Homo sapiens: one gene and its partners. The protein of the gene in region 2 purifies or fractionates together with the protein of the main gene of each other region. This does not show direct contact. Each region holds a gene or a part of one and is shown on either strand. Other genes may lie near its edges. The genes, in order: HERC3, OR6M1 and RHBDD1.

Region 1 (3,659 bases), on a different chromosome or scaffold from region 2:
ATAAAAATGAAAAAACTCTAAAACTTGAAAGTCAGGTAAGATTTCTTCTGATATTGCCACCTCTCTGTTTCACATCAACTAGAACACCTGAGAAAATGTGCCCCCAAAAGGCTTTTGATCTTAAAAAAAATTAAGTACTAACATTTACTAGTGCTTTCATTATTATTTCTGTTTTTATCTCTTCTACAAAGGTGGAGGCAATATAGAAAAGCCAGTATTCCACCTTCAGGAACACAATCTCTTTATTCACGGCGAGACCACACTCAAGTAACATCCCAGTCCATCTGGAACACAGAAGTTACTGAGCTGCAATGACACCTAACAAAATTTACCAGGGGGGAAAAAAGTAAAAAGCCAGGTGATAGACTTCCTGCACTTGAGTAATAAAAACATTTCAGGTGCTACTCCCATGAAAGACACTCTCCAAATCACTGAGGAATGGAAGGTTTTTATCTCAGCAAAGTGTCCGGAGCCTGCAAAAATCAGTGTGGACTCAACGGTCCTAAAAAAGAAAAACAAAACAAACATTTGGTAAGTCCACACTAGGTCATTTTCTTCCTCTCCTGTTTTGGAGACCTCTGTATCACCGAAACTGTTCACTTCACTCCCACCCCCTAAATTAGACATAGGAGAAAGACCAACGTACAGTAATACTGAGGTACTGAGCAAATGTGGTAGAAAAAAATAGTTTCAAGTTAAATAAATTAGGTTTGTGAATACTATAAAATCAAGATTATTCTGGCATGAGTCATTTCAAATAATCTAAATAATGGTTTTATTTTCAACTTGAAAATAGGGTTAGCTAAAAATTAACAGCAAAGAAAAAAAGGTTTTAAGTGTTAAGGATATTAAATGGCAACAAATAGATTCTTGGATCTCAATCCACTGAGAGCCAGGAGTCACACCAACAAAACAAATGACCATAAAACCACTGATATCGAGGTTAGCAAATTCACCTAGTACTTTGCTGGGGTTTGTATCCAGCCGAAGAATGGCCATAGCCAAGGGAATAGTCAATGTTATATAATACTTGGAATCCTGGAGTAGGGGAAACTCAGGTAGTATTAAATAGATTCTCATGGCTTCAACATCTGGTGGTGAGCTTGACAACTGGGGAATCAGACAACTTTCAAAACTGTTCAAAATCTGTATGAGGGAAAAGAGTAATGAGAAATTCAAACATACTTGAGATCTAGTTAACTTTCTCTAAGTTCATAAGCTATTTGATAGACTCTCAACTCTCATTCATTCACTATGCACTGAGAACCTACTATGAGCCTGACACTGGTCTAGGCCCTCAGTACACATCCATGAAAAGAAAAGCCAAAGATCCCTGCCAGTGCAAACTGTATATTCTAGAGGGGCATTGCCTTGGAAAGGTTTAAGCCAAAAGAAAGCAAAAGGTAGGTCTAATTCCCAGAGTAAATACTTTACAAAATTAAGATTTGGAGACTTTCACTTTTTCATCTTACTCTTTTTCTCTTGAAGTTGAATTCATCGATACAAAAATGCATTTTTAAGAATGCACTTTACAAATATAGAAACATACCTGTTCTAGAATCATGGAGTGCTGAGAGTTCATTAACTTCTCAAATAACACCCTAGTTGAGTTCAGGTCAATCCCAGGGATTTTGGGACTCGTTTTAAAATGTTCATCAATTCTAAACAAACAAAATCAAAAAGGTATATAATAAAAGAAAAAGCAAACACTCTGATAGGAATTATAAACAAGTAAAATACTGTGTTCTTAGTAATCAGATTTAAATTTGATCTGGCAGATAAGATCCACAAAAATACTACACTTTGCATAAATCTCAAAATAATAAACCCAAAATACAGAATATTATTCTTTCACAAAGAATAAACCACACTGGAATTCCTTTTACAAGAATTTTCAAATTTTTAAATCTGTTTTCCTTCAAGTCAAAGTACAAGGACTGTCATATCAAGTTAAGGCTATCTTGAAGTTTATAAACAAATAATTATTTCCCTGATTTCATCTTGTGTTTTTTGGTTTTTTTCTGTTTTTGTGGCTCATTGAACTAGATGTAGATGCTGTGGCTTGGTACAAATAACGTCCCCTGTGCAAACTGGTCCACTCATCAACAAATGACAGTAGAACTTCCTTGTTGAAAGCCTTTCTTACCAAAGTATTTAAAATAAAAATGATCTATAGTAAATGCAAAGTTAATGTCTCTCATCGTTAACACAAAGGATACAATTACATTCACCCAAGGACTAATTTCATTGCCACTATTTTTAACTTTCTAGCAACTAAATCATTTTTTTAACCTTAAATAAAATCTTAGCATTTTTGAGACTTAGAGAATATCTCATATATCCTGCTCTTGAACATACCACATTTGTTAATTTACAAAAGAGCTATCTATTTGCAAAGCAGGCTTCTGTTTTTGAGTAATGGACACATTCAGATGATTTTAATACACTCTGACAGCAATGTTATAATTTTTGAAAACATAAGAGTTTCTAACATTTTTTAAAAATCATAATTATATGTATCGGAACCCTATGCTCAAATGAAGATAAATTGCTTGTACTTTGTTTTTTGGGTCTTTCGTTGTTGTTGTTATTGTTTTTAAAATAAATCTGCCCAAAATATAGAAATGAATTCTGGTTTCCCATATGTAATTTTCCATATGCTTTTTGCTATGCTGTTGAGAAAACAAAAACAAAATGTTTTATCTATACGTATTTATTGCTTTGTAAATCTGGTCTTCATTTTGATTGGTTTCCTGAGATGCATCCTATGTACGCTACAGGAGTAGACTTTCTGAAATACACAGATGTCAGTTTGAAAAAAAATAAAAGGCTTTCCCCACAACTCTATACGAAATCTGTGATACTAAGGATGAACAACCTAACAAGTCTGGCCAAGAGCCCTTCCCAAATGTCATGAAAGCTATCCATCTAGAACGGGGTTTCTCAACCTTGGTACTATTGACTTTTGGGACCAGAGGATTCTTTGCTGGGCAGGTGGGAATGAAGGATGTTTAGCAGCATCGCTGGGTTCTACCCACTGGATGCCAATAGCAAGTCCCTCCCCATTGTACCAACCAAAAATGTTACCAGAAATTGCCAAATGTCCTTTGGGGAGCAAAATCACCCTGGTTGAGAACCCCTGTTCTGGAAGGCCAACATCAGCATAATCCAGAATATCTTTCCCTAGAGGAAAAAACTAATTACTAAATATGAAATGAATTGTGTGAGCTCATCCCAGCTGCCTTAATTATAAAAGTAAATGACTTTATAATCTCTAAATGTAACCAAAGAGAGTTTCTGAAGTGACCTCCTGCAACCCAGTTAGGGACTCATTTGTGGGGAGGGGGTGGTGATGGTTGAATTTAGGAGTCAACATGACTAGATTAAGGAATACCCAGATAGCTGGTAAAGTATTATTTCTGGGTATGTCTGGGTCAGTTTTCTGTAAGAGATTGGCATTTGAATTAGTGACTAAGTAAAGAAAATCCATCCTCATTCAGTGTGGGTAGGCACCGCCCAGTCAGCTGAAAGCCCAGAACAAAAAGGCAGAGCAAAGACAAATTATTTCTCTCTTCTGGAACTAGGACATCCTTCTTCTCCTGCCCTTGTACATCAGAACTCCAGGTTCTGTGGTCTTTGCACTCCAATACTTACACCAG
Region 2 (3,061 bases):
TTAGCCAGGACTAGAATTGGAGATCTCTGAATCCCTGTTAGGTTTCTTTCATGGTATTTAAAAACAAAAACAAAAACAAAACAAAACAACAGAAAAGCGAGGTCTCACTCTGCCACCCAGGATGGAGTGTAGTGGTGCAATCACAGCTCATTGCAGCCTCAACTTCCAGGGCTCAATGAATCCTCCAATCTTGGCCTTCCAAAATGTTGGGATTACAGGTGTGAGCCACTGCACCCAGCCTCCCTTCGTGGTATATGCAAGATACTTCATGGATTGAATTTTCTCCCAGACATGATCAGAGTTTTCCTTCAGTTTGGCATGATCATTGCTCATCCTGGGGCACCATCTCAGTTTCTGGCACACCAAACACCACCATAGTCGTGCAGAAAGAATGTGTTGAAGATAAGAAATGTGTGCCATTGGGGGAGGGCTGGGGGTTGGGGAGAGCATTAGGAAAAAGAACTAATGCATGCTGGGCTTAGTACATGGGTGATGGATTGATAGGTGCAGCAAACCACCATGGCACACGTTTAACTATGTAACAAACCTGCACATCCTGCACATGTACCCTGGAACTTAAAAAAAATAATAAAAAAAGAAATGTATTTAATGTAGTGTATACCAGTGTCAAGTTTTCCTTTGTATCAAGGTCATGATTCTGTTCACTGTCTCTCTCAACACTTCCTGTACCTTCTCATTCCTCAAGCTGTAGATAAAAGGGTTCAGGAGAGGGGTCACCACTGTGATGAGGACAGCGGCCACCTTGTCATAATCCAGTGAGGAGTTCTGATTGGGTCTCACATACACAAAGATGTTGCTCCCGTGGGCAATGGAGACAACAGTGATGTGAGAAGCACAGGTAGAAAAAGCTTTCTGACGGCCCTGGGTGGAGGGGATACGCAGGATGGTAGAAATTATGTACACGTAGGACCCAGTAGTGAATGCCAGGGAGCTCAGGATGACAAGGGCAGAGAGGAGAAAGTTTATCTTCTCAATGAGGTGAGTATTTATACAGGCCACCTGAAGAAGAGGGGCAATGTCACAGAAGAAATGATTAATTTCTTTCCTACAGTAAGGTAGCCTTGTCACTACAATGGTTGGAAACAACACAGACAGGAAGGCTCCCACCCAGCATCCCAGAACCAGCAGAAGGCAGGCCCTGCTGTTCATGATGACCGTGTAGTGCAGTGGGTCGCAGATAGCCATGTAGCGGTCAAAGGACATCACCGCCAAGAGGATAAACTCCACCGTCCCCAGAAAGAAGTAGAAATATGTTTGGATCATGCAACCAGCAAAAGATATGGTTTTCTCTTCTCCTAGGAGGCAGGCCAACAACTTTGGGGTAATGACAGTGGTGTATAAGATATCCAGAAAGGACAAATTACTGAGGAAGAAGTACATTGGAGTTTGCAGGCGATGATCAATCCATATCAGGGAGATGATGGTGATGTTTCCTGTTGCTGTTAATGTGTAAGTTACCACAAGAACCACGAAGAGAGATATTCGAATCTCCAGGAGAGCTGGGAAGGCAATTAGGGTGATTTCAGTCACAGTGCTCCAGTTTCCCATGACAACTACTATATGGTGGGCAGGGTTTCCCTGAAGAAACAAGAAAAGGAAAATCAGCTTAGGTAATTTTGTAAATATCTGCTGAGAATGTATTGCGGAGAGTGGCTTATATTGGGAGATGTAGACCTGGTATGTAGTCCTCTATCTGCAAGTTAATTATTGTGCCACACTGGGAAAGTCAAGATACTATTTAGGTACATGGTTTTTTTTTGTTTGTTTGTTTGTTTTTCCTGTAAAATGACGGAATAAGGCTGGATAAAAAAAACTCAACTTCCTTCTAGTTATAAAATTCTATTCCTTTTCATTGATGAAATTTCTAATCTTTTCTATTCTTTTGGCTTCATTTTCTCAGCTAAAAATGTGCTAATGTACTGATGTATACTTAATCAGAATGCCCTTCTATTATTCTGGTTTACAGTTCCTGAGTGGCAAATCCTTTAGAAACGTAAAGTCTTTTCTATAACAAACTTTCTTTCACTTTGGTGGTTGTCATTTAATAAAGGTTGATTTAGTTTTTTCTACATTTGTAGATATCCAGAGTCTCCGAATTCTTAACATCTTTCCCTAGCATGTATAGATCTGTGAAAACTGTCCAGAGATTATTAAAAGGAACAACAGCTGACGGTTCCTATTAATCATTTTAGATGACACCTCAAAAAGAAATAATGAGTGTCTCGCCCTTAGATTATGCTTTTGTGTCTAAAACCTACCTTCTACAAGTTCTGTGCAGTATCTAATATGTATCATATATCTGGCTGATCATTTGAGAGCACCGTATATAGTGTGATAACATCAGAGAGGCACAAATTATATACAGGAAGGCAACATAGAGGTAATTCACCTCACTTCATTTACTTTGTCAGCCGACATTGTGAAACTGTACTTCAAGATCATCTAGTTTGTTCTTTGTCCCACAATGTGAGAAATGATTATTTTGCAGAGACCTCCCCATTTTAGGTAAAAACCAGCCCATGCTTTAACTCTGACCTTGGTGCTTTATTTATCTAGATATCACTTAGCACCTCCTTAATAAATCCTTAATAGATAAGTTAGCATCTCCTCCACTCTTTGCTACTGATCGTGGCCACCTCTTTTTCTTTTTCCAAACTCCCCCTGCACTTTCCTCCAAGATAAAAAATTTACCCTCTTATTTTATTTTTCTTTTTATTATACAAGAAAGACATTTTTAGTGCAAAGAATTAAAAAATGCAAGTGCAGAAAAGAAAATTATAATCTGTAATCGAACTTCTTAGAGATACAGTGACCTTTTGGTGTATATAGTTTTAGGCTATTTTAAAGTTCAAAGTACATACTTGTGTATCTAAAATAAATCATACTAGGAGACTATTTTGTAATTAGCTTTTTTCCTTTTCCTTTCTTTCTCTTTTCTTTCTTTCTTCCTTTTTCTTAAAACAATTTAGCATCTTTCCATGTCAACTCCTAGAAGTCTTCACAATCATTTTTGAGAATTGTATAGTGTTTGATTCTATCA
Region 3 (3,659 bases), on a different chromosome or scaffold from region 2:
TTGATAAAAAAAAACTGTTTGGAAGAATTAATAAAACTTGATGGATAGGATTTGGGGGTAGCAGGGTGATAAGGTTAAGGTCAAAAGACATGTCAAGGATCTTTCTATGTCTTTGGCTTGAACAACTGGATAGATGGAAATCCCATGTCTTGAGGTGGGGTGCATGAGAGGAGGAGCTGATTTGGAAGGGACAGTCCAGTGTTCAGCTTGGGGCATGTTGAGTCTGGTGGGGAGGGTGTGTTTGTAAGGTAAGGGAGCACAGGGACTGGCCTTTCTTGAACTCTGGTAACTGGCTTGTGGTCTGGATACAAGTTAGAATAATACATAAACCATTTCCAAAACCCAACAGATTTTACAGGTTTTCAGTTCACAGATAAGTTGCTATAATTGATGTTGCCTCTGTGGTCTTTCAGATAGCACAGCACTCTAAAAATTTCTATGTATTTGATGGGCATGACATTAACAATATTCATTTTATAGTCAGTGCTCACTTATTGTGATCTGTCTTCCTTGGTGTTCCTAGAGCCGTGCCTCCCTGGCCCACAGCGTCAGGTTACAGATTTGATCTTTACATGGATCAGTTGGATTTTCTAAGTTGTCTTGTGACAGGTTGCATCCCTCACCTTGGATGGCTGACTTGGTAACTGATTAGGAAGGAAACTGCCCTAGAGTTGTTATGAACTAGGACTGATTGGTCTTTGCTACTACTTAAGACTCAAAACGTATGTTCTACCTACACTGGGACTCTAATGGCCTTTGTTTACAAAGGTGGAGCCCAAAAGACGGGCACTTCTCACATTGGCTATGGTTATATCTCCTTTCGCATTAAGTATACATTTACTGAGAAGCCAAGCCACACAATTTTACTTCTCTTTTGATTTCCTGTGGACAATATTTTTATTTCCTTCAACAAATAGAAGTAGGCCATTTAGAGGCTGGGAATATAAGTGTTTTGTTATTTGCTGTACCTCCAGTGCCTGGCACAGGGACTGGCATGCATATGGCACTTGATACATGTTTATTAAATACATGAGTGAAAGAAGGAATGGCTGAATCATCATTCTGTGAGAAAGGATAATTCAGTTTTCAGAAACCAAGACATCAGGCAAACTATATCTTCTTCTAAGATTACGTCCCTGAAACCTGAGAAATCAAAGCTGAAAAATAGAAATTTGGGCATCATCCTGATAAAAAGAATTACAAAAATCATTAAAGTGGAAGCCCTTGAGTGTGTGCAGGAGAGAGTAGGGATAGAGGAGAAGTGAACAGCAGAGAAACGGGTTGGAAGGAGGAGTGAAGCCTCAGGAGAGCAAGGTGTCCCACAGAAGCAGGAGCAGTCAACAGTGGAGAGCTGGGAGGTGCGAAGGGATGCAGACAGAAAGACACCTTTTCATCCAGCCAGAAGTAACTCAGGAAAGTGCAATCAGAGCCTGGGACACAGTGTGAAGTAAGACTGGGAATTCTGTCCTTTTATCTATATTCTTCATTACTAATGATTGTAATTGAGGGGCAAGTTTTTCTTGAGCAAAGATGTAGTTAGTTTTGATTTTCTGCTACATAAAGCCCAGCATCATAAGACACTGTTGGCAATGATATTGAAGGGTTTATTTTGTGATTTCTTGTAAGCTGATTATTTACTGATCAATGATCAAGGCCAGTTTTTCCATTGTTCCTGTTAAAGGTAATAATGTTTGATATATGTAACATAAATATTTCTGTGTGTGTGTGTGGGCACACGTGTGCACACATATTGATAAATTTAGGAGAATTACAAAAAAGTTACGGTAGGTAAAGAGTTGAAAGTTGACTTGAGTTCTAATGTGAAAAATATAGGCCATTTATCCAAAGTTATGTGGGAGCATTTCAGTTTAAATTTCATTAAATTCTCTAGTTCATAAGAATGCTACAGAGCTACAATAATAACAATATAGAAACGGGTTGTGCTAATACATGGGGTTTTGCCAATAATGTGTGTGTGCATGCACGTGTATGTATATGGCTAATTTTGTGTGTGTATGCATACACATATATATATACACATGCATAATTTTTTTCTGAACATTGTTTTGGTGTGATGTTGATAATAAGAATCCATATGGGGGCATAGGAGTACATTTGAGTCTTTTTAGGATGTTACCATTTGCAAAGGAATTAATTCTCACATAAGTAAGTTTACTTTATAGAAATGAAAGTAGTAGCTACTGTTTATTCTGCATCTCTTTTGTTCCAAGCATGTCACAGTAATCCTGGGAAGGAGGTTTTATGTTTCTTAAAGGGAGGAAATTGAAGTTCAGAAAGTTTAAATGATTTGCCCCAGGTCACAGAGCTAGAAGATAGGAGAATCCTGCCTTTTTTTTTTTTTTTTTTAACTCTAAAACTCATGCATTGTCCAGTGTGCAGTCCAAGTTAGAATCCTTAGGGTATTAGAGTGAGTTACCTGTTTGGTTGGGGGCCAATTAATCTCCACAGAGAAAGCAGAAACCATTAGATGAGAACTTTTTCAACATTTTGCCCCTAATAGCTACACCTGATTTTTCTTTTCTTTCTGTTAAGAGGAAAAGACTCTTCCCTCCAAGCACTTGATCCTTTTTATTTATCTCTTGCATCTTTAGTCTGTGTCTCTGCCTGCATCTCTTCCCTTACTAGCTTCTTCTCATGAGCATGAAACAGTCCCTCCCTGGCTTAGTCCGTTTAGGGTTGCTATAAATACCTGAGTCTGAGTAATTTATAAAGAAAAGAGGTCTATTTAGCTCACAGTTCTACTGGCTGTAAAGTTCAAGATTGAGCATCTGGTGGGGGCCTCAGGCCATTTCCATTTGCGGTGAAAGGTGAAGGGGAGCTAGCATGTGCAGAGATCATGTGATGAGAGAGGAAGCAAGGGAGTGGGGAGGTGCCAGTCTCTTTTAACAACCAGCACTGGCAGGAACTAATAAGAGTGAGAACTCACTCATCCCCTGACCCCAGGGAGGGCATTCATCTTTTCATGAGGGATATTCCCCCATGACCCAAACACCTCCCATTAGGCTCTACTTCCAATACTGGGGATCGGATTTCAACATGAGGCCGGGCCTAGTGGCTCATGCCTGTAATCCCAGCACTTTGGGAGGCTGAGGCAGACGGATCACCTGAGGTCAGGAGTTTGAGACCAGCCTGACCAACACGGTGACACCTAGTCTCTACTAAAAATAGCCAGGCATGGTGACACATGCCTGTAATCCCAGCTACTCAGGAGGCTGAGGCATAAGAATCATTTGCACCCAGGAGGTGGAGGTGGCAGTGAGCCAAGATCATGCCATTGCACTCCAGCCTGGGCTACAGAGTGAGATTCTGGCTCTAAATAAATAAATACATTCATTCATTCATTCAACATGAGGTTTTGGAGGGACAAACACCTAAACCACAGCACTCGCGAAAGGCAATACCTTCTGTATTAGTTAGTAGTTGTTGCATAACAAACCACTCCAAAGCTCAGTGAAGTAAACCAAGTACCATTTATTTAGCTCACTGTTTTGTGGGTCAGCAAATTAGGCTGGGCTCAGCGAGACTCACTTGTATACCTGTGGTCAGCTAGACAGCTTCACCTCTGGAGTAGTAGCTGACCAGTGGCAAGGACCTTCAGGGTGACTGGAGTGTGTGCCTCTCTTTCATTACCCAGCAGG

Evidence for each region.
Region 1: the proteins of OR6M1 (region 2) and HERC3 purify together in Homo sapiens (affinity purification with mass spectrometry; one large-scale study listed by BioGRID and IntAct). This does not show direct contact.
Region 3: the proteins of OR6M1 (region 2) and RHBDD1 purify together in Homo sapiens (affinity purification with mass spectrometry; one large-scale study listed by BioGRID and IntAct). This does not show direct contact.

Annotation. Positions count from the first base shown.
Region 1 is NC_000004.12:88,665,379-88,669,037, reverse strand, and holds part of HERC3 (probable E3 ubiquitin-protein ligase HERC3), read right to left. Parts: intron 1,662-3,659; coding exon 1,550-1,661; intron 1,147-1,549; coding exon 957-1,146; intron 1-956. UniProt on the Homo sapiens protein: E3 ubiquitin-protein ligase which accepts ubiquitin from an E2 ubiquitin-conjugating enzyme in the form of a thioester and then directly transfers the ubiquitin to targeted substrates.
Region 2 is NC_000011.10:123,804,781-123,807,841, forward strand, and holds OR6M1 (olfactory receptor 6M1), read right to left. Parts: upstream 1,570-3,061; coding exon 628-1,569; downstream 1-627.
Region 3 is NC_000002.12:226,860,005-226,863,663, forward strand, and holds part of RHBDD1 (rhomboid-related protein 4), read left to right. Parts: intron 1-3,659. UniProt on the Homo sapiens protein: Intramembrane-cleaving serine protease that cleaves single transmembrane or multi-pass membrane proteins in the hydrophobic plane of the membrane, luminal loops and juxtamembrane regions.